Linked DNA regions of Homo sapiens. The protein of the gene in region 6 purifies or fractionates together with the protein of the main gene of each other region. This does not show direct contact. Each region holds a gene or a part of one and is shown on either strand. Other genes may lie near its edges.

Evidence for each region.
Region 1: the proteins of PTPRU (region 6) and CIBAR1 purify together in Homo sapiens (affinity purification with mass spectrometry, with the first as the bait; one large-scale study listed by BioGRID). This does not show direct contact.
Region 2: the proteins of PTPRU (region 6) and MON2 purify together in Homo sapiens (affinity purification with mass spectrometry, with the first as the bait; one large-scale study listed by BioGRID). This does not show direct contact.
Region 3: the proteins of PTPRU (region 6) and UBE3C purify together in Homo sapiens (affinity purification with mass spectrometry, with the first as the bait; one large-scale study listed by BioGRID). This does not show direct contact.
Region 4: the proteins of PTPRU (region 6) and DNAJC16 purify together in Homo sapiens (affinity purification with mass spectrometry, with the first as the bait; one large-scale study listed by BioGRID). This does not show direct contact.
Region 5: the proteins of PTPRU (region 6) and PRRC2B purify together in Homo sapiens (affinity purification with mass spectrometry, with the first as the bait; one large-scale study listed by BioGRID). This does not show direct contact.
Region 7: the proteins of PTPRU (region 6) and DSG2 purify together in Homo sapiens (affinity purification with mass spectrometry, with the first as the bait; one large-scale study listed by BioGRID). This does not show direct contact.

What each region holds. Positions count from the first base shown.
Region 1 is NC_000008.11:93,717,550-93,721,049, forward strand, and holds part of CIBAR1 (CBY1-interacting BAR domain-containing protein 1), read left to right. Parts: intron 1-1,125; coding exon 1,126-1,239; intron 1,240-3,500. UniProt on the Homo sapiens protein: Plays a critical role in regulating mitochondrial ultrastructure and function by maintaining the integrity of mitochondrial morphology, particularly the organization of cristae.
Region 2 is NC_000012.12:62,598,401-62,600,976, forward strand, and holds the end of MON2 (protein MON2 homolog), read left to right. Parts: 3' UTR 1-2,076; downstream 2,077-2,576. UniProt on the Homo sapiens protein: Plays a role in regulating membrane trafficking of cargo proteins. Together with ATP9A and DOP1B, regulates SNX3 retromer-mediated endosomal sorting of WLS away from lysosomal degradation.
Region 3 is NC_000007.14:157,176,926-157,180,425, forward strand, and holds part of UBE3C (ubiquitin-protein ligase E3C), read left to right. Parts: intron 1-1,764; coding exon 1,765-1,922; intron 1,923-3,500. UniProt on the Homo sapiens protein: E3 ubiquitin-protein ligase that specifically catalyzes 'Lys-29'- and 'Lys-48'-linked polyubiquitin chains.
Region 4 is NC_000001.11:15,564,848-15,568,347, forward strand, and holds part of DNAJC16 (dnaJ homolog subfamily C member 16 isoform 1 precursor), read left to right. Parts: intron 1-1,071; coding exon 1,072-1,152; intron 1,153-1,234; coding exon 1,235-1,333; exon of another isoform or gene 1,334-1,563; intron 1,564-2,251; coding exon 2,252-2,422; intron 2,423-2,930; coding exon 2,931-3,330; 3' UTR 3,331-3,500. UniProt on the Homo sapiens protein: Plays an important role in regulating the size of autophagosomes during the formation process.
Region 5 is NC_000009.12:131,495,086-131,497,889, reverse strand, and holds part of PRRC2B (protein PRRC2B), read right to left. Parts: intron 2,151-2,804; coding exon 2,016-2,150; 3' UTR 1-2,015.
Region 6 is NC_000001.11:29,274,522-29,278,021, forward strand, and holds part of PTPRU (receptor-type tyrosine-protein phosphatase U isoform 1 precursor), read left to right. Parts: intron 1-926; coding exon 927-1,235; intron 1,236-3,500.
Region 7 is NC_000018.10:31,543,177-31,546,342, reverse strand, and holds part of DSG2 (desmoglein-2 preproprotein), read right to left. Parts: exon of another isoform or gene 2,948-3,166; intron 623-2,947; coding exon 1-622.

The DNA.
Region 1 (3,500 bases), on a different chromosome or scaffold from region 6:
TAATGCTCCCTTAAGTGTTTTTCCAATCATCTAGGAAGAATGGGGCTGGAGGAAAGAATCACAGGCCACTGATAAGTATCTATATGGCTATCCTCCAAAGTATATGACCACTCCTTTCTGGGTTATCTTAGGAGAGCAGGGATGAAGGAAAATGTGTATTTGACTACTGCCTACTAATATAATCCATGCTTGAGTATTTTCTGCCTTGTTCTTATTCAGCCCAGTTCTCTCTACATTGCTTATTTTGTTATAATTAACAAAATGATAAGATCATATTTATTAAAAACTTGCCTGGTTTCCATCTTTTCCACACCTACTGATTACCTCACCCCCTGCTTAGATCAACATGCACATCTTCACTCATACTCTTTGTTCATGATCTTCCTTGTCATAGGTTTCCATCATGCTTATAGAGGTTACCTGCACGGTTTATCTGTGAAGGAAATGATTGATTCCGGCAAGAACAGCACAGTTCAGTGGGCAATAGCAAAAAAACCTTAAATGAGCTATAACCTTGTAGCCTTAGAATCAGATCTGTGTCTAAAGAGTCTGACCTGTGAGCAACACTGGGCAAGTCAATATTTGTAAACTAGAACGCTCTATGCAAATATATGGTGTTATCATCAGTGGCAGGAGTGTCATTACTACCAAGTAACTCCTTTATGTTTAGAGAATACAAGTAGCATACAGTGTGGAACATAATTCCTGTTTAAAAAACGTTCTCCTGTTTAAACATCAGTTGGAATTGCTAAAACACCAGCTTCATAACTGAACTGCTCTAATACTTAATAAGCATATGGTATTAAAATTATATAGTAGCATACATTTTAGTCAGATCTTATGTTATTATAAATGTCAATTACTAGGTATAAAGAGAACTAACTAAAATAAAAAATAAGAGGGAAGTGGATGGTGATAAAGGAAATACTTTGTATTATTTGAAGGTTTGGCAGCAAAAGGTCTTCACAACTGTTTTTCAGTTATCTTTTGTACTTTATTTACCCTATAGAAAAACAGATACTTCTGTATTTTATAAAATACCAAGACTATAGTGAGGAATAAAGTTACTATATTCATAAAGAAATTTAAATCATTGTTTAAATTCAATTCTTTGGTTTTTTTTAGACTATATTTTCTGAATTTATCACAATCGAAATGTTATTTCACGGCAAAGCTTTAGAGGTCTACACTGCTGCCTACCAGAATATACAAAACATTGATGAAGATGAAGATTTAGAGGTAGGACTATGTCTATCTAAGCTCAGTTCTTCTGTTAATGTGGAAATATTTAAAAGAGAACATTAGTATGTGATTAATATCTTTTTTTTTTTTGAGACAGAGTCTCACTCTGTTGCCCAAGTTGGAGTGCAGTAGTGTGATCTCAGCTCACTGCAACTTCCGTCTCGTGGGTTTAAGCAATTCTTCTGCCTCAGCCTCCTAACTAGCTTGGATTACAGGTGCCCGCCACCATGCCCAGCTAATTTTTGTATTTTTAGTAGAGATGCAGTTTCACCATGTTAGCCAGGCTGGTCTTGAACTCCTGATCTCAAGTGATACGCCCACCTCGGCCTCCCAAAGTGCTGGGATTACAGGCATGAACCACCGTGCCCAGCCATGATTAGTATCTTAACTTTGAACACTATAGTGGTTATTATGTGTAATCCAAAATAGATGAACTTTTATGATTTTCCATTTATTTTCAATTTTTCAAATTAACCATGGCAAAAGTTCCAAGAGTTAATTTATTAATAGCTAGTAAAATATAATTTACATAAAGCCATTAAATAAAATACTGTGTATCATTTTGACTGGTGATATAAGCCCACTGAAGTGTGCTAAAAAATAGTTAACATTTATTGACTTCAGTAACATTTGAGTGTTTACATCATGCACAATGCCCAAAGCTTTACATGCATTTTCTCATTCAAACCTCAAAATCTTAGGTGGTAGGTGCTGCTATAACTCTCATTTTACAACTACAGAAGCAGGCTTAGAGGATTTAAATAACTTATTTGTGGCCACTTAGCTAGTAAATAGCAGAATCAGGATTCTGACTGACTGTGTAATGTAATCACTAAGCTATGAAATAAATGTAGGTTATGTAAGCTTGCTTTATGCTGATGGTTTTAGTTAAATGCAAATAATTCTGATTGGCCAACTAACATTAGAGCAAGTAAATATCAAAGACTGGTCCTCAATGAGCAATTCTGTAAATATCCAACCCTCTTACCTTCCAAACGGAAAAAATGAAGGTACGAAAGTATTTATGCTGAAGTAACTGTTCAAGACATACTTTCCCCATCTCATCTCTAATATAGAAGTGAAAAAAGCCATGTAATCCCACATATAACAAGAGTTCTGTATTAATAAAATATGGAAGTGTCTACCACTTAACAAATTTGAAGATTCCCCCGATTTTTTTTTTTTTTTTTTGTATCTTCCCCCGCCTTCCAAGACAGAGTCTTGCTCTGTCACCCAGTCTGGAGTGCAGTGGTGCGATCTCGGCTCACTGCAACCTCCGCCTCCTGGGTTCAAGTGATTCTCCTGCCTCAGCCTACCTAGTAGCTGGGATTACAGGTGCCTGCCACCATGCCCGGCTAATTTTTCTATTTTTAGTAGAGATGGGGTTTCACCATGTTGGCCAGGCTGCTCTCAAACTCCCGACCTCATAATCCGCCCGCCTTGGCCTCCCAAAGTGCTGGGATCACAGGCGTGAGCCACTGCGCCTGGCCTAGTTTTTTTTGTATCTTAACTATCAGTAAAGAGACCCTCTGAGCCTTCCTGTCCCATTACTCCACGGGCTCCAGGAAACTTAAAACCAGAATATAGGTTAAAGAGAATGAAGAAAGTACATATTACAGTATGTGTATATGTGTTTCTAATGTCAAAATCTAATTTGTTTTATATCAGTTATATATACATATTTATATTTCTCTATTTGTCAATCATGACTTCCCAAGTGTTAATTCCAAACACTACAGCTAAGGTTTCTTAACTTTCACTCCTTTTCATGTCCTGCTTTTAAAAATTGATTATGAAGGCCAGGCACAGTGGCCCACACCTGCAATCCCAGCACTTTGGGAGCCCAAGGCGGGTGGATCACCTGAGGTCAGGAGTTCGAGACCAGCCTGGCCAACATGGTGAAACCCCATCTCTACTAAAAATACAAAAATTAGCCAGGCTTGGTGGCACGCGCCTGTAATCCCAGCTACTCGGGAGGCTGAGGCAGAAGAATCGCTTGAATCCGGGCGTCAGAGTTTGCAGTGAGCCAAGATCATGCCACTGCACTCTAGCCTGGCAACAGAGTGAGACTCCATCCAAAAAAAAAAACTTGATTATCAAGCTTTCATCTGTCATTTATAAAATAATAAAATAGCAAACGTTTATATAATTACTTTGAGTCAGCTACTGATCTTTGCATTTTAACTATATCATTTTAATCCTCTCAATAACTTTGATAAAAGTACTTATTTCTGATTTCTGTGGATGAGAAAACTGAA
Region 2 (2,576 bases), on a different chromosome or scaffold from region 6:
AACTGCTTCCTTCTATGATGTTTACTAGATGGAGAAAAATACTCCATACCTATATTGCAATTTTATTTTTATCTAGAAAAAGAAAATATTAGGCTTCAGACCCAACTGTGCAAATTTCATTTGCTTTCCATCTCTTACTACTACCTCTGTGTCATAATTTAACACGTAACATACAACTCCTGTCTCTTAAGGCAGCTACCATATGGTGTTTATGTCAGACTGGATATATTTATCTAATTTTGTGAAATTATTTTTTAGTTCCCAACACAATTCTTGAAAGTAATACCACTGTTGTTACTCTTTCTCCTTACAATTTTTATGTTGTTGAGATGTATCAGTTATGTATTATAATCATGAAATTGTATTGGCCTCAAACCCAAATTTTCTTTGTAGTCTAGGATAGATTTTTCATGAAAGCTATATAGTTATAACTGTGATTGTACAGATTGTTTATTTGTTTTACAGCTAACATTAAGCATGATTCCAGGTTTTTAATTATGTTCCAGCAACACTAGTGTTTCTTTATAACTTAAAATCATAACCACTTTGATAATTTACCTTTGGATCTGACCAGTGATTCATTTTTTTCTTGAATATACTTTGTGTTTGCTTTCTCATCCCCGTTAAGTCTGAAACATTATTGACACCCCACATCACTTACTCTGTTTAAAGACTTTACGAGTAGTGAGTCACATGTTTAGGATGATCACTTTGGGAAAAAAAAAATTATAGAGTAAAGGGGAAATGTTCTTGAGAGCTTTATTAAAACCATTAATATATAAAATGAAAAAATAATAAACAGAAGACACGAAGTGTCTCTCAATAGTTTAGAAAGAAAGATTTGGAACTTTAAGTAAAAATGCTAGGTCAAGTAAAAATCCTGATGTAGATTAGATTATCTTAATCTTATGAGCATTTTTTTTTAATTTGGTGAAGCTGTTTTGAAACTGCCTGTCCATATCAATGCCAGACTATCTCTCTACCTCTCAAAGAAAATAATTTGCATTAAAATTCCTTTTTTTGTTATGTAATGAAAGTATAAAACAAGAATTTGTACGTTACTCAGTGTGTACTGCAGTCAGATATAGTTAAAATAATTTTTCTGATGCGTAATTTTAACCACCATTTCTGGAGTACCTAGTATGTGCAGGCCAAGGCTTTGCCTATATTATTCCCTTTAATCCTCAAAGTAGCCTTGCAAAGAAGTTATTTTCATTTTACAGAAGAGTCAAGGATTAGGGGGTTGAAGTGAGCTGCCTAGAGTCACATACCTAAAGTCCAGGTGGATCACTATGTCTTGCTTTTTCAAAAGCAGTTCTTTCTACTACAGTACAATAGTTTCATGTTTTACAGTCCATTAAAATCCAAGACTTATAAAATAAACTAAAAATACTCTTGAGGCAATTACTATTTCTATGATGGGCACTGGGACAAATATACTTGAACATAACAAAGAACTAAAAATACTGTGAAAAAAAGATTTGTCTTAACGATGACCTTGAAAGTTGCATTGGGTTTTTATTATTGGTCCAGGTTTAAAACATTTTATCTATTTAAAACATATGTTGTGTGTTTTAAGAAGTTATGTTATAAATAACAGCATTGTGGTTAAGAGCCCAGAGTCTGGGGCCAGGCTTCTTAGATGCAAATCCCAACTCTGTTATTTTACTAAATGTGTGACCTTGGGCAAGTTAATTAACCTGTTTTGGTGTCCTCCTCTGTGAAATGGAGTTAATCGTGGTATTTAACAGAATTCAAAATGTAGTGTGTTCTAAAGCGCTGTGCCTGGAGCATCATCACCACTAGGTGGTTAGGGAAGTAAAACACATTTGGCACACATCATTCAAGAATGGCCAGAAAATCCATGTCTTCCCACAATAGGGACCAATTTTTTGCCTTTCACCAGACAACCACTGAATGTTAAGAATCTACTGTGTGCTAATAACTGTGTCCTTGCTGTATGACAGAAGCTATTTGGAGCGCTCTCAAGTGCTTATTACAGCTAGTCAAGGAAACCGCATATATAAAATAATACTGGATACAAGACTATACAATTAAATACTGGTGTATCACTAACAACTGTTTAGACCCTGTTTTTGCGTTAAGCATTGGGTTAGTCTCTGTCCTCATGGAGTTTTCAGTTTTATAGGGAATACAGACCTTTTAACAAGTATGTAAAGTACAGTAAAAGACAAGTACAGATTAAAATGAAATCATAAAATAGGAACCTTAGCCTAGTCTTCTGTGGTTCAGGTTAATAGTGCTGTTAGTAGTCAGAAGGAAGTTTTTTAAAGAAATGAAAAAGCTCAGTGGTTAAGATAGAAATTAAAGTTAGTCTTGATGGCTACCTAGATTTTGGATGAGTTCAAAGGATATACGGAGGGATTTCAGGCAAGATAATGTGAGCAAGGCATATCTGTGAAATAGAAAACAGTGCATTTTGGTGTATTGTGTGAAACAAGGTTGGTTGTGAAGGATTGGGTCCCTTCATAAAATTCCTTGAAAGCCAAGGAGAGTAGTTTAGATTTGAGATGGCAGGGTCTGGAGTGATTTAAGAATAAATTATAAAACCAAGG
Region 3 (3,500 bases), on a different chromosome or scaffold from region 6:
TTATCTGCCACGTGCCAGAACATTGAATTTTTCTTTTTCTGTAAATGTGGCCTTCCAGAACCACCTGCAGCTCCTTTTATGACTAATCACATACATATTTTTTAATGCCGTTGAACATTTCTGAAGTCATGGAATCACTGGGTCACATAGTAGTTATATATTTCACTTTAGAAGAAACTACCAAACTTAGGACAGCAGCATAGGAGAGGCGCAGTTCCTCCATATCCTGAACCCTTGGTATTGACATTTGTCAAAACCCAGCCATTCTGATGGGTGTGTAGCTGTATTTTATTGTGATTGGAATTTGTATTTCCTGGATTACTAATGATGACGGGTGTTTCTCAGGAGCATACTGGTCACTCAGATGGCTCTTTTTCAAGAGTCTGTTCAAATCTTTTACTTCATTTTTTAAGGTGGGTTGTCTCTTGACAATATGGATATCCTTTTCCCGTCCAAGGCTGTCCCGATAAACCTGGAGCTACATCCTATGTTGTCTCTCACACGAGGCACCGTTCCAGCACTTCTCTCTGTTGCATTATCAGGTTTACCTCTCACATGGGATTATCAGCACACATGCTGCTGACTTTTCCAGGTTGACAAGAGGCTCTCCCACCGCCCGCCGCTGCCCTTTGCGTCCCAGCGGCTTGTTATGTGTAGCCCCGCTCCTCCTGCACTCGTACACCCCTCGAGAGACACCAGTGTGGTGCTGAGGGGAAAGTTGTGAAAAGGGCAAAGACAAAACAAGGTCTGGCTGGGTGTCCTGCCCAGCCTGCCCGCTGGGTCCTCACCCCCTGTCTCTCCTGGGCTTTGCGGCTGTTGAGACAGAAGGCAGCCTGCGGTAAGCGGATAAGCCGTGTAGACACACCCCACCCAGAACCCTGCACGTTATTCCCCTCCTGGCAGGGCAGAAGGCTTTTGTCACATAGAGAAGTTAGTTTCAGTGAGGCATTGAAACAGCCTCCTGGGTCCCTCATTAAAGGTGATGTGTGGTCAGATGGATTCTGTTTTTTTTTTTTTTTAAGAAAAAGGAAAAACAGCTGTAAAATACCTTGTGAAAGCAACAGGAGAAATCTAAAAATAAGTTCGGTGTTAGACAAAGTTTTTGATAGAAAAAAGGATTGGGGTGGGGGGAAAGAGGGAGGAGTGGACTAGAGACAGCCAAGAAGAAACTTTCGGGAGTGGCAGATGTGCTCTGTGTCTTGATTGGTGCGGCCTGCCCGACTGCTTGTGCTGCCCTCTCTAAACGGATAGTTAACCTGCAGTTCTTCTCATAGTAAGAAGGGAAGCCTCAGTCAAAATGAGAGTTGACTTAGGACCAGAAATATATCATTGTTCTATTTGGGGGATATTGCAGGCGTGGAAAGTCTCAAAAGCATCTTTAAGGAGATGAGATGCACTGTTAAAGAGATTCGTATCTGAGTTTAATTAAATGCAGCTTCTTGGTACAATTCATGGATTATAATACTTCTTACAGTGTTTTGTAATCTTTAATTTTTCGTGTTCATTTCTCCACTGTCCATTTTTCTTGTCTGTGAACTTAGTGCCAGCATACCGTTTGGCACATAACGAGAATTCTTTTAAAAACTGTCTGAATGACTGAATGTTAGTTGGATGATTTCCCTGTCTATCTGTAAGATGTCCCTATTTTCAGAGATAATCTTGTACTGGAATAGTTTCTTAACCATTGTCACTGAGAGTAACTTGGGGAAACTGGTGACATTTTGCCATCCTGTAAGTGTGTGAATACTTTTTTCATTTTTACAGGTTGCTGCAAAACTGTAATGATGACAGTTTGAATGTTGCACTTCCAATGAGAATGCTTGAAGTATTTTCGTCTGAGAATACTTACTTGCCTGTTTTACAAGATGCTAGCTATGTGGTGTCAGTGATTGAACAAATTTTGCACTACATGATTCACAATGGTAAGTAGTAGGCAGGATCAGAACTGTGGCTCAGCATCCTGATGGGGAGTGAGCAGAGGCCAGCCTGCTGCTGTGAGCCTGTGCCCTCAGTCTCAATGTCAGAGCGGTACTGGTGTCCCAGACGCCTTGTGCTCCATCCACAGGTGCCCACCAGAGTCCCAGATTCCAAAATCTGTCCTTGGCTCCACCCACTCTGAAAATTCAGAAACATGCTACTCTCTTTGCCTTTTTCTTTTGCTTGGAAGTGAACCAAAATTGACATATGCTTTCATCAGTTGTCCCGTCATCCAAGATTGGTGTCTGCAGTGCAGCTGCCGGTCCTTCACCTGACCAGGAAGGGCTCTTACCACCTCCTGGTCATTCTGAGTGAATGGGAAAGGTAATGCCACCAATGTATGAGTTGAACATCACTCCAAGAGCCTTATGAAAAAGTAAATTTTGTTAAATGATTTTTCTTCCAAGAGTGAGGTCCTTTCACATTAGTTCAGTAGAAGAGAATAGGATATTTAGTTTGAATTTTCTAACTCAGTGCTAAAGTTTTAATACATTGATAATGCTCCTAAAATGACTGCATCGTAGAAGCTATACTGAACTGCATCTGAAACCCTTGAGGACACATTAGTGACACTTTCTGGAGAAAAAGGATGAAATAAACATGATTTTTAAAAATTTTATGAAGTGAGCAGTATAAATCCTAACACAAAAGAACCTTTGGTCTCGACATCCTCATAGGTAGAAACCCAAGCACTTCAGGACTCCTGGGCTCGAGAAGTATTTGTCAGCATTAAAAATGTGCGTGAGACTAGTTGTGAAGGGAGGTCTGGAGAGCCGTGGCTGCAGACAGAATTATAAGCAGCTGTGCTTTCCTTCACCTGAAGTCATAGTCTGGGTTACATCTAACGGACTTGAAGTCTGGACCACTTGGTCCTCTTGGTCCTCTGTCAAAACTACAGAAATTAAACGCATACTCATTTCAGCCTTGCTGCTTGGCGTGTTACTATTTTTTAGACTCCTTAGTTTGTTGAAAACTTAGGGAAACAGTATTCCGAGTTAATTAAAAGTAAACTGAAAGTTGTGGAATTTGATCTTTTTAAAAACTAATAATTAAAAGTGGTTCATTGTGTTAGTTGACATATATACTGTTTTAAGACTAAGCGTTTGAGAATTTGTATTTGTTTTCTAAAATTGTAAGGAAGATATTTAAGAAATATGCATTATTTGAAATGTGTCCCAATATACGAAATGCTTAAAAATCTTACACAGAAACTGCCGCTTCTAGCATCTTCTGTGGTACAGCAGTTGTTTACTTTCTAACAGTCGATAAAATTTTAGCCTTTTAAATTATAGTATTACCATTATTTGTATTGTTATTGCACATTCTGTGCCATGAAGCTTTTTAACATTTGCAACAGAACCTTTGTCATGTTGTCAGTCTATTCAGTAAGTACATTGTTAGTTATGTTAGTCACTTTTTTAAAAAAGTCTCTGTGTATTTTTTAAAATTCTTGATGTATTTTTATCTTTTTAGTTTCATAGCAAAAGAGCTTTCAAGCTTTCATATGAGTTTCACTAGTTATC
Region 4 (3,500 bases), about 14 Mb from region 6:
TTTTTGAGACAGAGTCTCACTCTGTCACTCAGACTGGAATGCAGTGGCACGATCTCAGCTCACTGCAACCTCTGCCTCCCAGGTTCAAGCGATTCTCCTGTCTCAGCCTCCCGAGAAGCTGAGATTACAGGCACCCACCACCATGCCCAGCTAATTTTTGTATGTTTAGTAGAGACAGTGTTTCACCATGTTGGTAAGGCTGGTCTCGAACTCCTGACCTCAGGTGATCCACCCACCTCAGCCTCCCAAAGTGCTGGGATTACAGGCGTGTGCCACCATGCCCGGCCACTTCCCTTTTTTTATATTGGCTGACTGACCCTTTCCCACTGGCTAGGAAAGGATCACCCATGGCTGCCATTCTGGGCAGCAGAGCCTGGGACTGTCTCTTCATCAGGGAACCTCTGGTGCCCAGCACAGGGCCTGACACACGTGGAGTCCAGTGTATAGATGTAAAAGGAATGAGTGAATTAACCTCAAGAGGGATACCCACTCCCACCTACTGATGAGACCATGAGCCCCTGAAGGACAGAACCACATCTCATTCGTGTTTGTGATTCCTGGCACCCAACACAGCACCTGACAAATGACAGCCTTTGATGGGTGTTGGTAGGTACATAAAATTTCAGAACACCAGTCCTAGATGAAATCTTGAAAGATCAATTTTATCTCCCTACTCCACCCCTCTGGGCTACATCTGAATTTTTCTGGCCAGAAAAAAATCAGTAAAGTTGAGGAAATAATTCCACAATGTCAGAAAATTCTTCCATGTTTACACCTTAAGTCCTTTATTATCCCTTTTATTGTTTCCTCATGCAGAACTTATTGAGCATAGCCTATTATACTGAGATACAAAATCAAACTTTTAGAATAAGCTGTCTGTGAATTAGAACACTGAGCAATCTCTACCTTCCCCTCCACCACCTCCACCCGCCAAGAAAAGCTCTGTTTGCCTGAAATTAGTAAGCGTTTATTGGTGTGAAGAGTTTTTGGTTTGGGATTTTTATTTTATCTTTTTTTAGCTGGAGAGAAGAAATTTTAACTTGAGCTAATAGTTTGTTAATTTGGTTTTAGGAGGGAAATGATGCCCCTGCTGTCCCTGATCTTCTCTGCCCTCTTCATCCTCTTCGGCACTGTCATCGTTCAGGCTTTCAGGTAAATGTCCTGTGGCTTCTCGGTGCACCACCATGGTTGGTGTTGACACTTTTTTTGTAAAACTCCTTTTTTCTTACTTTAGCGACTCTAATGATGAGCGAGAGTCAAGCCCTCCAGAAAAAGAGGAAGCCCAAGAGAAGACTGGGAAAACTGAGCCAAGCTTCACCAAAGAAAACAGCAGGTTTCTCTAACAAAACACCAGACTCACCTCCCCGGCACCTGCCCCCCAGATCCTGTCATCTGATAACGCAGCATTGGAACATAGAGTGTAGAGAAGAACTCTCATGCACCTCCTCCCATGTAAACTGTGGCTACAGGGAAAAGTCACTGTGATTTGTGTTTACTAAGACCCTGTAGGTGTTTAGATGCCTTAGATTTCATAATGAAGGCAGAAGGAAAGAAGCCTATCAGGCAAGTGTTAGGTGAGCCAGAAGCAGGACGTGGTTTATCCCTGTAAATGTCAATGAACGTAACCAGTCTTGTGCGCACACACACCCAGCAGCAAGAGGCCAGGGTCTCCGAGACAAAGAACATAGACTGAATGATAGTTGTCTTCTTCATTCTGTCCTAGAGCAACTTCTGCACCTGAAAAGCAGCATCAAGCAGGGCACAGTGGCTCACGCCTGTAATCCCAAGACTTTTAGGAGGCCTAGGTGGGAGGATTGCTTGAGCCCAGGGTTTGAGACTAGCTTAGGCAACATGGCAAGACCCTGTCTCTACAAAAAACTTATAAAATTAGCTGGATGTGGTGGCAGGCACCTGTAGTCCCAGCTACTTGGGAGGCTGAGGTAGGAGGATCACTTGAGCCCAGGAGGTCGAGGCTGCAGTGAGCCATGATCATGTCGCTGCACTCAAGCCTGGAAAACAGAGCAAGAACCTATCTCAAAAAGAAAAAGAAAAGCAGCACAGAAAGGCTGTTTGTAGGTCAGGGATTACCAAGTCAGGCCATCCCCATCCTACCAATGTGTTAGACTCAAGAATAGTGAATAACATACCTAGTCTGGTTAGAACATAGCATTTTCTTTCAGCTGTTTCTTTTCAAAGTAACGGCTTTCCCCCTATCCTGACAGCATCTTAACTCCTCAATATTTCTCCACAGCAAGATTCCTAAAAAAGGCTTTGTGGAGGTAACTGAACTCACAGATGTAACATACACCAGTAACTTGGTACGTCTGAGGCCAGGCCACATGAATGTGGTCCTCATCCTGTCGAATTCTACCAAGACCAGCCTACTACAGAAATTTGCTTTGGAGGTCTACACATTTACTGGGTAAGCATGTGTGTGTGTGCATGTATGTATGTGTGTGAGAGAGAGAGAGGCAGGCACACTGAAATTGCACGCTTTTCTCTTTGGTCTTGTGGGGCTTCATCCATACAGCAAGATGCTGGCTGTGACCTTTCCAATCCAGACATCTGAGCCATTGCGACAGGGACCTCTTTTCCCACTTCACTTCGTGTTTTGTTGGTTCTGAACAGAAAAGCTTGAACTCAGTGTTATTCCCTGAGCCCTTTCAGTTACTGTTCTCTAGCCCTTGTGTATTTTCCAGAAGAGCAATGTTAAGTTCCACCGAGCAAGCGATGGGGGAATGGGTGATTGAAGTGTCGCAGCTGCTGGAGAGGCACTGGCTCCCACAGAAGGCCTTCTTTTTCTCTGTGTTCAGGCCCCATCCAACACAAAGCGTTTTCCTATTATTTTAAGTCTCACTGGGGTATTTATTTTCTCAGCAATTAAATGTGTCAGGAAATGCCCTGAGTCCTCAATTCTCTTCTTCCTACAGGAGCAGCTGCCTACACTTCTCCTTCCTGAGTCTAGATAAACACAGAGAATGGCTAGAATACTTACTAGAATTTGCTCAAGATGCAGCTCCAATCCCAAACCAATATGATAAGCATTTCATGGAGCGTGACTACACTGGTTATGTACTGGCTCTGAATGGCCACAAGAAATACTTCTGCCTCTTCAAGCCCCAAAAGACAGTCGAAGAGGAGGAAGCCATAGGGTCGTGCAGTGATGTTGACTCTTCCCTCTACCTGGGTGAATCTCGAGGGAAACCTTCCTGTGGCCTTGGATCCAGGCCCATCAAAGGAAAGTTGAGCAAGCTCTCTTTATGGATGGAACGCCTGCTGGAGGGCTCCTTACAGAGGTTTTATATCCCATCATGGCCTGAACTAGACTGAGAGGATTTTCCAAAGAGATTTGAACTCTTCAGACTTTTTAACATGCCCCTGTGAACAGGTATTTTCAGGACTCAAACTACCACAATGAACAGAGTATAGATTTTAGATTGCTCTTCTAGAACCATGGCTAGAAGAATCTTTCCTTTGTCCTGTTCTAACCTAGGAATGAA
Region 5 (2,804 bases), on a different chromosome or scaffold from region 6:
ACAAGCAGCCGCTTGCAGTGGGAGAAGGAAAAGCAGACAAGAAGCTCAGGTAGGGAATGCCTGGAACTGTCGGGTGGGCAGCCCCTGGGGAAGGGACTCAAGCATAAAGGCTTGGGATAAAGAGGGAAAAGACCAGGTGAGGGCAGGAGGGGAGCTGCTGAAAGATGCAGGTGAACAGTAAAGCACCTTTCAGTAAAACTGCCCTTTCCCAGGCAGCTCTGGGGTGGGCGCTGTTGGTAGGAGGCCGTTCTCCCGCTTCCTTAGAATTGTGAGAGCAGTAAGAAGTTACTTCAGCAGTTCCTAAGATGCTCCTTCCCCATGTTCTACACTAGACACAGAGCTTAGAGCCCAAGCCTGAGCGCTGTCCTGCACCCGTGAGACGCTGAAGGCAGCCTCTGGTGGGGGGTGCATCCCCGGCCCCCTCCTCTAGGTGTTCTGAGCCAGCCTCCTCTGGAGGAGGAGGTAGACGCTCAGTGACCCCTAAGAACAGCTGAGAAACCTGAACTGTCCCCTTCCCTTTCCTTGGAATGACAGAATCTGGAGTGATTTCCTTGTTTCTTACTTAAAAACAAGCCCAGCACACGATGGCTCACACAAGCCTCTGGCTGGAGAAGCTGCCCTCCCGGAGGCTGCGCAGGCCCTTTGGACCTTGGTCAGCCCTCCACCCAGCCTCACCCTGGACCTGCCCCCGCCGTCTGAAGACAAACGAGACTGATGCCTACTGCTTAGCTCAGGCCCTCCTGTCCTGACAACCTGGGTCTGCTGCTGGGAGTGAAGCAAAGGAGGAAAAGGACAAACTCCCAGTGGCCTCACTTGGGGACCACACACGGGTCCACTCCCTCCATCACCAAGTGGTGTTCACGATGAGCTGTGTGGGAGGTGGAGACAGGTCCAGAGAAAGCAGCAGGCTCCGGAAGAGGAAGGAAGGAAAATGACAGGTTACAGAAGGCTTCAGGGAAAGAAATGTGTGAAAAACACAGCACCCCTGCAGGGCAGGGTATGGAGCCCCAGAAGCAGAGCCCACGGGGCCTGGGATGGGCCTGTGGTATGTCAGCTCACCCCATCTGGGCCAACCTGGGAGCCACCAGCAGCCATCTCCATGATTTGTCTCTGGTGCCCAGCACATCCACTGGCTTTAGAGGAGCCCAGGACAGGGACCCTGTGTGATTCTCATGCTAAAACTGTCATCAACTTCATGGGCTGCCTGTAAGCGCCCTGGGCTCATCAAGCCAGGAGCTGGAACCCAACTATGACCCCCCCCCTCCCCCAACCTGCCTGCTGCTCTGAGCACCCCATCGCTTCCCAGGCGGGGAGCCAGGCACCAGAATGCTCGCAATCGGTGCCCTCAAGAACCTCCTTTTCTTTTTGCAAATAACCTCAAGGGTGAACCAGCTGAGGAATCAGGAGGGGATGCATTCTTAAGAGTCACCTCTTAAGGTACTGCAGTGACGTATCAAACTAAACAGGACAGAGGCTAGAGATGGAAGGGAGCGGAGGGGCTGGCAAGAAACATATAAAAGTTCAGCTATACACATGGAGCTTGCGTTTTTGTTTTCTTTTCCTTTCCCCTTTGTAAAAACCTTGGCTACATTTTAAAACAAAAAGCCTCAAAGTAAAATGACCCTGCTGCCAAATCACTGTGCCTAGGGATGGGCGGCTGGGCCGGAAGCACTGCTGAGAAGGCGCCCTGGCTGCGCGGCAGGACAGGGAGGAGGCAGGGAGGGCAAATCTGCACTGCACAGGAGGCGTCACTCCACAGTCACGGTAGGAGCAGATGGGATGAAGGAGTCGTCTGCTTTTTTGTTTCGTATCAAAGCAAGCGGGTCAATGCCATATATCCACGGGTGCAAGCTGGTTGACAACGGAGCTTTCGGGAGTGGAGAGGAGGGAGGTCTCTCAGTCTGGGCCACGCATTTGGACGGTGGATCTGGTGAGGCTCCCGAGTGTCGGCTGTGTCGAGGCCGCATGGCGGCACCGTCCTCAGTAGGGAGAGGCGAGGTGGCAGCCAGGCACTGTCAGGCCTTACTCTCCTCCACTTTGACAGCCCGAGGCTTGATCGCTCCGGTTCGCTTCATCTGGGAGGCAGCCGAGGGGGCCTCCTGCAGCTTCACGGCTCCCAGGCTGGGTTTCTCATCCACTCGTTGTTTTGCCTTTGGACAGATGAATGGGAAAAACAAAGTGACCCTGACGCTGAAACGTGTTTGGATACATAGTTCCCACCACTCCCTTCCTGCTCCTGAGTTGCAGGGAAAGCTCCCCTAAGTTGTCAGTCCCTTGGTTGAAGGACCAGACTTAGAAACCCCCCTCCTAGTAAGGAAAGTGGCGCGAGTGCCGTCTCTGCTCCCTCCCCATAAGCCCTGAGTGCAGTGATTCGGAGAGGCAGGAAGACACCGGGTCCTCCACAAAGAATTCCGCGATGGCACATCCCAGGGCGGAAGCAGTTCTGGTCCCAAGGCCAACTGGAAGAACCTTTTCAAATCAGTGCACCTCCTGCCCCACAGGCAAAAAAGGCCCCTTCAAGTAGATCCAAGTGCCCCCTGCACGTCTCGGAGCCCCCGACTGTCTGCTGGGGCCCTAGGCAGACTTGGCCCCCACAGATCTCTGGCCGCGATTCAGCCAACCCCCCCACCATTCCCACTCTGTAACCTTTCCCTGGGGCCCCATTCCTAGTCAGGGCTCCCCTGGTCTGTGGCTCTACACGGGGAGTGGGGTGGGGAAGTCACAGAGCAGCCAGCGCATCTGCCCCCCACCAGGTCTGAACTCTGGAAGAAAGCTTTAGAAGCTCATTCCACACAACTTTCATG
Region 6 (3,500 bases):
GTCATGTATTTCTGTTTCTGTTTCCCTGTCATTCTCTGGCTTTATTTAACTATTTGGCTCTCATTTCCCTCATTACCCTGATTTCTGTATGTTATTATATTATATGTATTACTATACATTGTTTCAGAACAAGTTTGGAATTAATACCTTAAGAAAAATATATCAACAGTTTGATTCAGACTGGCCTGTTGTAGTCCAGGGTGATCTTGAATTAGGAGGTGAACTGTGCTATTAAAAATAAATTATTGGCCGGGTGCGGTGGCTCACACCTGTAACCCAAGCACTTTGGGAGGCTGAGGTGGGTGGATCACTTGAGGTCAGGAGTTCAAGACCAGCCTGGCCAACATGTGAAACGCTATCTCTACCAAAAATACAAAAATTAGCCAGGCGTGGTGGTGTACGCCTGTAATCCCAGCTACTTGGGAGTCTGAGGTGGAAGGATTGCTTGAACCTGGGAGGCAGAGGTTGCAGTGAGCCTAGATCATGCCATTGCACTCCCTCCTGGGTGACAGAGTGAGCCTCTGTCAAAAAAAAAAAAAAAAAAGCTAATATTTTTGAGGGCTTATTGTATATTAGCCATTGTCATGCATCCTTTGTGTGTATTTCCTTAAACCTTACAATGATCCTATGAGGCAGGGCCTATTATCTTTTCATTTTGCAGTTGAGGAATCTAAGGATCAGAGGGGTGAAGTGATTCAGCCAGCAGTTGCCAGCTGCAAGTGGCAGAGCCAGGATTCAAATGTAGTCCGCCTGACTCCAAAGCACATACTTTTACTCCCTGTTTGATGTTCTAGGGGTCCCCTGAGCTCTTGGGGGCAATGGAGGGATGATTTCAGGCAGCTGACTGATGCTTTCTCTCCCTGTTCTTCTTCCTCTTCTCTTCCCATTTCTTCTAACTTCTTCTCTCTGCTTCCTGCATTCTCCAGAGCCCATGAGGGCCCCCAAAGGCCTGGCTTTTGCTGAGATCCAGGCCCGTCAGCTGACCCTGCAGTGGGAACCACTGGGCTACAACGTGACGCGTTGCCACACCTATACTGTGTCGCTGTGCTATCACTACACCCTGGGCAGCAGCCACAACCAGACCATCCGAGAGTGTGTGAAGACAGAGCAAGGTGTCAGCCGCTACACCATCAAGAACCTGCTGCCCTATCGGAACGTTCACGTGAGGCTTGTCCTCACTAACCCTGAGGGGCGCAAAGAGGGCAAGGAGGTCACTTTCCAGACGGATGAGGATGGTAAGAGTCTCAGTCCCAATTCCCGGGGCCCTGTGTACCTCCCACAGATACGCCATGTCTGAGACTGAAATTTACTGAGGGTATTTTTTTCTTTTTTTTGCTTAGGATTAAACCAACTGTATAACACCAAAGTAGTGATAGCTCCTATTTTTTCTCTGGAAGACTTTGGGTTAGATTGGTCTAATTTCTTTCCTTAAGTGTTTGAAAGAATTCAGCAGTGAAGCCATTTGGGCATAGAGTTTTCTTTGTGGCAAGGTTTTTAGTAAATTTTAGTTTTTAAAATAGATATTGGGATATTCAGATTTTTTTATTCTTGTATCAGTTTAGATGGACTGTATTTTTTAAGGAATTTGTTCATTACACCTAAATTGTCAAATTTCTTGAGATAATGTTGTTTATAATTTTTTTTATTTATTTAGAGACAGAGTCTTGCTCTGTTGCCCAGGCTGGAGTACAGTGGCACCATCTCAGTTTGCTGCAGCCTCCTCCTCCCAGGCTCAAGCGATCCTCCCACCTCAGCCTCCTGAGCTGGGACTACAGGCATGCACCACCACGCCAAGCTAGTTTATTTATTTTTGAGGCAGGGACTCACACTTTTGTCCAGGTGGGAGTGCAGTGTCATGATTATGGCTCACTGCAGCCTCGACCTCCCAGGCTCAAATGATCACTCTACCTCAGCCTCCCAAGTAGCTGGGACTATAGACGTGCACTGCCATGCCTGGCTAATTTTTTTGTATTTTTTGTAGAGACGGGGTTTTGCCATGTTGCCCAGGCTGGTCTCGAACTCCTGGGCTCAAGTGATCCACCCACCTTGGCCTCCAAAAGTGCTGGGATTACAGGCATGAGCCACTTCATTTGCCAATATTCTTTTATTATATTTATTTAATGTCCATAGGCTCTATAGTGATATCATCTTTTTCATTTCTGATATTGGTAATTTCTGTTTTCTTTTTTCTTGTTTACCCTTGTGAAGACTGTATAAATTAATCTTTCCAAAGAACCAACTGTTGGCTTACTTGATTTTCTTTATTTTCTATTTTTTATTTCCTTTGTTATACTTTCTTTGGAGTTGATTTGCTGTTCTGTTTGCCTTTTGAGATAGAAGTTTCTTAGATCATTAATACTGAGCCCTTCTTCATTTCTAATATACGTGTTTAAAGCTACACATTTTCCTCTAAGTCCTGCTTTAGCTGTGTCCCACAAGTTTTGATATTTCCTATCTTCATTATCATTCAGTTCAATTTGTTGTCTATACAATTGAACTGTTATTTCTGTTATAATTTCTGCTTTGACCTAAGAGTTACTTAGAATTATGTTGCTTAATTTCTAAGCAATTGGGACTTTTCTTTTTTGTTTGTTTTTGAGACACAGTTTCACTCTGTCACCCAGGCTGGAGTGCAGTGGCACAATCTCGGCTCACTGCAAACTCCGCCTTCTGGGTTCAAGTGATTCTCATGCCTCAGCCTCCTGAGTAGCTGGGATTTCAGGTGCCCGCCACCACGCCTGGCTAATTTTTGTATTTTTAGTAGAGACAGGGTTTCATCATGTTGGCCAGGCTGGTCTCGAACTCCTGACCTCAGGTGATCTGCCCACCTTGGCCCTGCAAAGTGCGGAGATTATAGGCATGAGCCACTGCACCTGGCCAGCAATTGGGACTTTTCTAATTGTCTTTTTATTATTGATTTCTAGGTTAATTCCACTGTAGTCAGAGTATATACTCTAAATTTTATTTTGTGAAATTTCATCTTTACTTTATGGCCCAACATATTGTTAAATTTTGGTAAATGTTCCAGTGTATTTGAAAAGAACATGTATTCTGTTGCTGTTGAATGCAGTGTTCTACATATGTCAAACTAATATTTAGCCCTTAGCACATTCAAGCACCATTCTGAATGGTTTTGATATATTACTGCATTTAATACCCATGACAACCCTATGTGGTAGGTTACTATTTCTATTCCCATTTTATTTCTATTCCCATTTTACAGAAGAAGTCACAGAAAGCCTGGCTTTCTAACCTGACCATCTGGCTTCACAGTTGTCATTCTTTTTTTTTTTTTTTTTTTTTTTTTTTTTTTTTGAGATGGAGTCTTGTTCTGTTGCCCAGGCTGGAGAGCAGTGGTGCAATCTCAACTCACTGCAACCTCTGCCTTCCTGGTTCCAGCGATTCTCCCACCTCAGCCTGTCGAGTAACTGGGATTATAGGCACCTACCACTACGCCGGCTAATTTTTTGTATTTTTGGTAGAGATGGGGGTTTCACCAT
Region 7 (3,166 bases), on a different chromosome or scaffold from region 6:
CAACTGTACCTTCATTAGCATAAGGCTGATCTACCAAGGTAGAAGCTGGAGCATACACCCTCTCTGTCACAATAAGGCTCTGTGGCTGGCTAGGACCCAGGATCACAGTGGTTGGTGGCATAGTGGACCCTGTGACATAGGAAGTTTCTGTTGCTATCACATTTCTAGAAGCCATTGGGTCAGGAAGAGGTGTAGCTACCTTTTGCGCCTGCCTAGAAGACACAGATCTTTCAGTGACTATTTCCTGAGTTACTTTCTCTGCATTGGCTTCTTGCAAAGATTTTGGAACTGGGAAGCTACTGCCAGAGGAGTAGGTATTCTCTGAATTAACCATAGTTTGCTCACAGAGTGAATGTGAAGCTGTGTTCATACTTGTTTCTGTGGCAGGTTTTTGTCTCTGCTCAATTTCCTTATTTATATCTATTTTTTGACCCAGGCAAACTTCAGCTAGTGTCTTGAATTTAAGTCCCAAATCATCTAAGAAGCGGTCATCTAGCTCTCCTTCAATAAAACTGCAACAACCAATAGAAGCATTCAGCGATTCAGTTTCTTCCTGAGAATAAACCAGAAGGCAATCTTTGGCTGTGTGATTTTCATCTTCCTCAGTGTAAGAGGCCGCTTTCTAAAATGAAAACAAAACAAAACAAACACAAAACAGACAAATAATTAGCAATATAAATTCATTTTAAAACAAGACTCTATATTCCTGTTCAAAATGCAGTAATGTGAATTTAATTACAAGGAACCATCAGGGAAACACAAATTGAGAGAGATCCTACGACACAACTGGACTGTATTCTTAAAAAAAATTAATATCAGGGAAAAAATAGAAAGGCAGAGGGGACTGTTTCAGATTAAAGGAGACTAAAGTGTCAGGACAACTAAATGGAATGCAGGATCCTGAGAAAAACAAAATTGCTGTAAAAGATAGTGTGATAGTTGGCTAAACTGAAATATGGACTATGTCAATATTAAAGTTCTACATTTGTTAACTGTACTATAGTAATGTAAGAGAATGTGTGTGAATGTGTGTCAGTGAGAGAGAGACAGAGAAAATGGAAAAGCAAATAGCAAATGTGGCAAAATGTTTATTGGGTTCAAAATTTCTATTATTCTTGCAAATTTTCTGATAACTTTGAAATTACTTCCAAATCAAAAGTTAGTACACACATACATAACCAAGAATGACTGGAGCAGGATTAGAGTGGAGAGAGGGAAAACTTACCAAAAGAAAACAAACAGGACGCTAGAATTGAGCTTAGCAGTGAGACAGGAAAGGCCAAGAAATGGTTTTGCTTGACACCACCCACATCCCTGTTAAGCTAATACTTGAAGGTGGGTGAAGGATGGTATGAAAGATGGGAGGTTAAAAAGGAGCAGAAAGTGGGAAAGCACGCTAATAATTTGCAAATTTAGAAGAGGGGGACAGAAGTAACTTGCTTTCCTCAATGGAAGCCCCTCCCCTTACTCCTCTCTAGGGCCCTTCAGATGCCTTATATTCCAACTCTGTCCATTCTCATGGGAGCACAGGGCCTTGTTCTCAAGAAAACCACCCAGTCCTACTTTTTAAAAAATTATTCTTACTATGTCTGTAAGATCTGTAGTAAAGTTCTTTATTTTATTTCTAACATCCATAGTTTGTGCTTAATCTCTTAATATCCTAATTAGTCTGGTAAAATGTTTATCAATTTTATTGACCTCTTTAAATAATAAGCTTGTGGCTTCAATTTTTTTTCTTATTACTTTTTGCTAAATATTTCATTGATTTCTGCTCTAAAATTCATCATTATCTTATTTCTGCTTGTTTTGGGTTTAATTTGCTCTTCTAACTTCTGAGGGTGGAAGCTTAGGTCACTGATTTGAGAACCATCTTCTAATATAGCCATTTTTGCTACAATTTCCCTTCAAGCATCACTTTAGTAGTACCCCACAAATTTTCATGAAGTATAATTTAATTTGCAGTCATGTGTATTTATAAATATTTGAGTATATTTTATATATCTCTTTGTTACTGATCTCTGGTTTTAATTTTTTTTTCATCAAAGTACATTGTATGACTGCAGTTCTTTAAAAGTTATTTACATTTATTTAATGTTCTAGAATACAGTCTATATGAAAAAGCATGTGTATTCTGCTTCTGTTGCATAGAGTGTTCTGTCAGTATCAACTAGATCCATTTGGTTCACAGTACTAAGTTTTCTATATGCTTACTGATTCTGTCACTTGTTCTTTCATTTACTGATAGATCAGGTTGAACTCTCCAACTATCATTATGAATTTGTCTGTTTCTCTTTCAGTTGTTTTTGCTTTAAGTTTTAAAAATTTCTGTTATTAGGTTCTGACATATTTAGGAGTTTCAGGCCTCCTGATGAACTGACTCATTTTTCATTATGAACTATCCCTCATTATTCCTGGTAATATTCCTTGTTCTGAAGTATACTTTATCTCTATGTTATACTTTTTTTTTTTTTTTTTTTTAGACAGAGTTTCACTCTGTTGCCCAGGCTGGAGTGCAGTGGTATGATCACAGCTCACTGCATCCTTGGCTTTCCAGGCTCAAGTGATCCCCCTACCTCAGCCTTCTGAGTAGCTGGGACTACAGGTGTGTGCCAGCATGCCCAGCTAATTTTTTGTATTTTTGGAGAGATAGGGTTTTAACATATTGCCCAAGCTGGTCTTGAACTTCTGGGCTCAAGTGATCTGCCTGCCTTGACCTCCCAGAGTGCTGGGATCACAGGCATGAGCCATTGTGCCTGACCTCTACATTATACTTTTATTTTCAGTTCTGCTTCTAATTCCTCAATTCTAGCATGAGCTTCCTTATTGCATCTGATCATCTTCCTGGAACTTTTCTCATCATTTTTTGGTGGACCCTCATAATAGCAAAGCCAAGTACTCTCATACAGAAGGTAAAATTTAAATGGACTTAATAGATTGTGTTTTTTAGGTTATATATCCTCTGCCTCTCCTACGGAGCTCATCCCTACCAAGCCTGCTCCTGCAGAGGGATGCAACTTTCCGACCCACTGACATCTGTCTTGGTCATATGACTTGCTTTGGTCAATGAAATGTGGTGTAAAAAGGTGGAGGCTTTGAGAGCCATTGCCTGGTTCTGCCTTGTTCTTTTCTTTGGGTCACAAGGACGGCAGCTTCCCAGGTACAATCT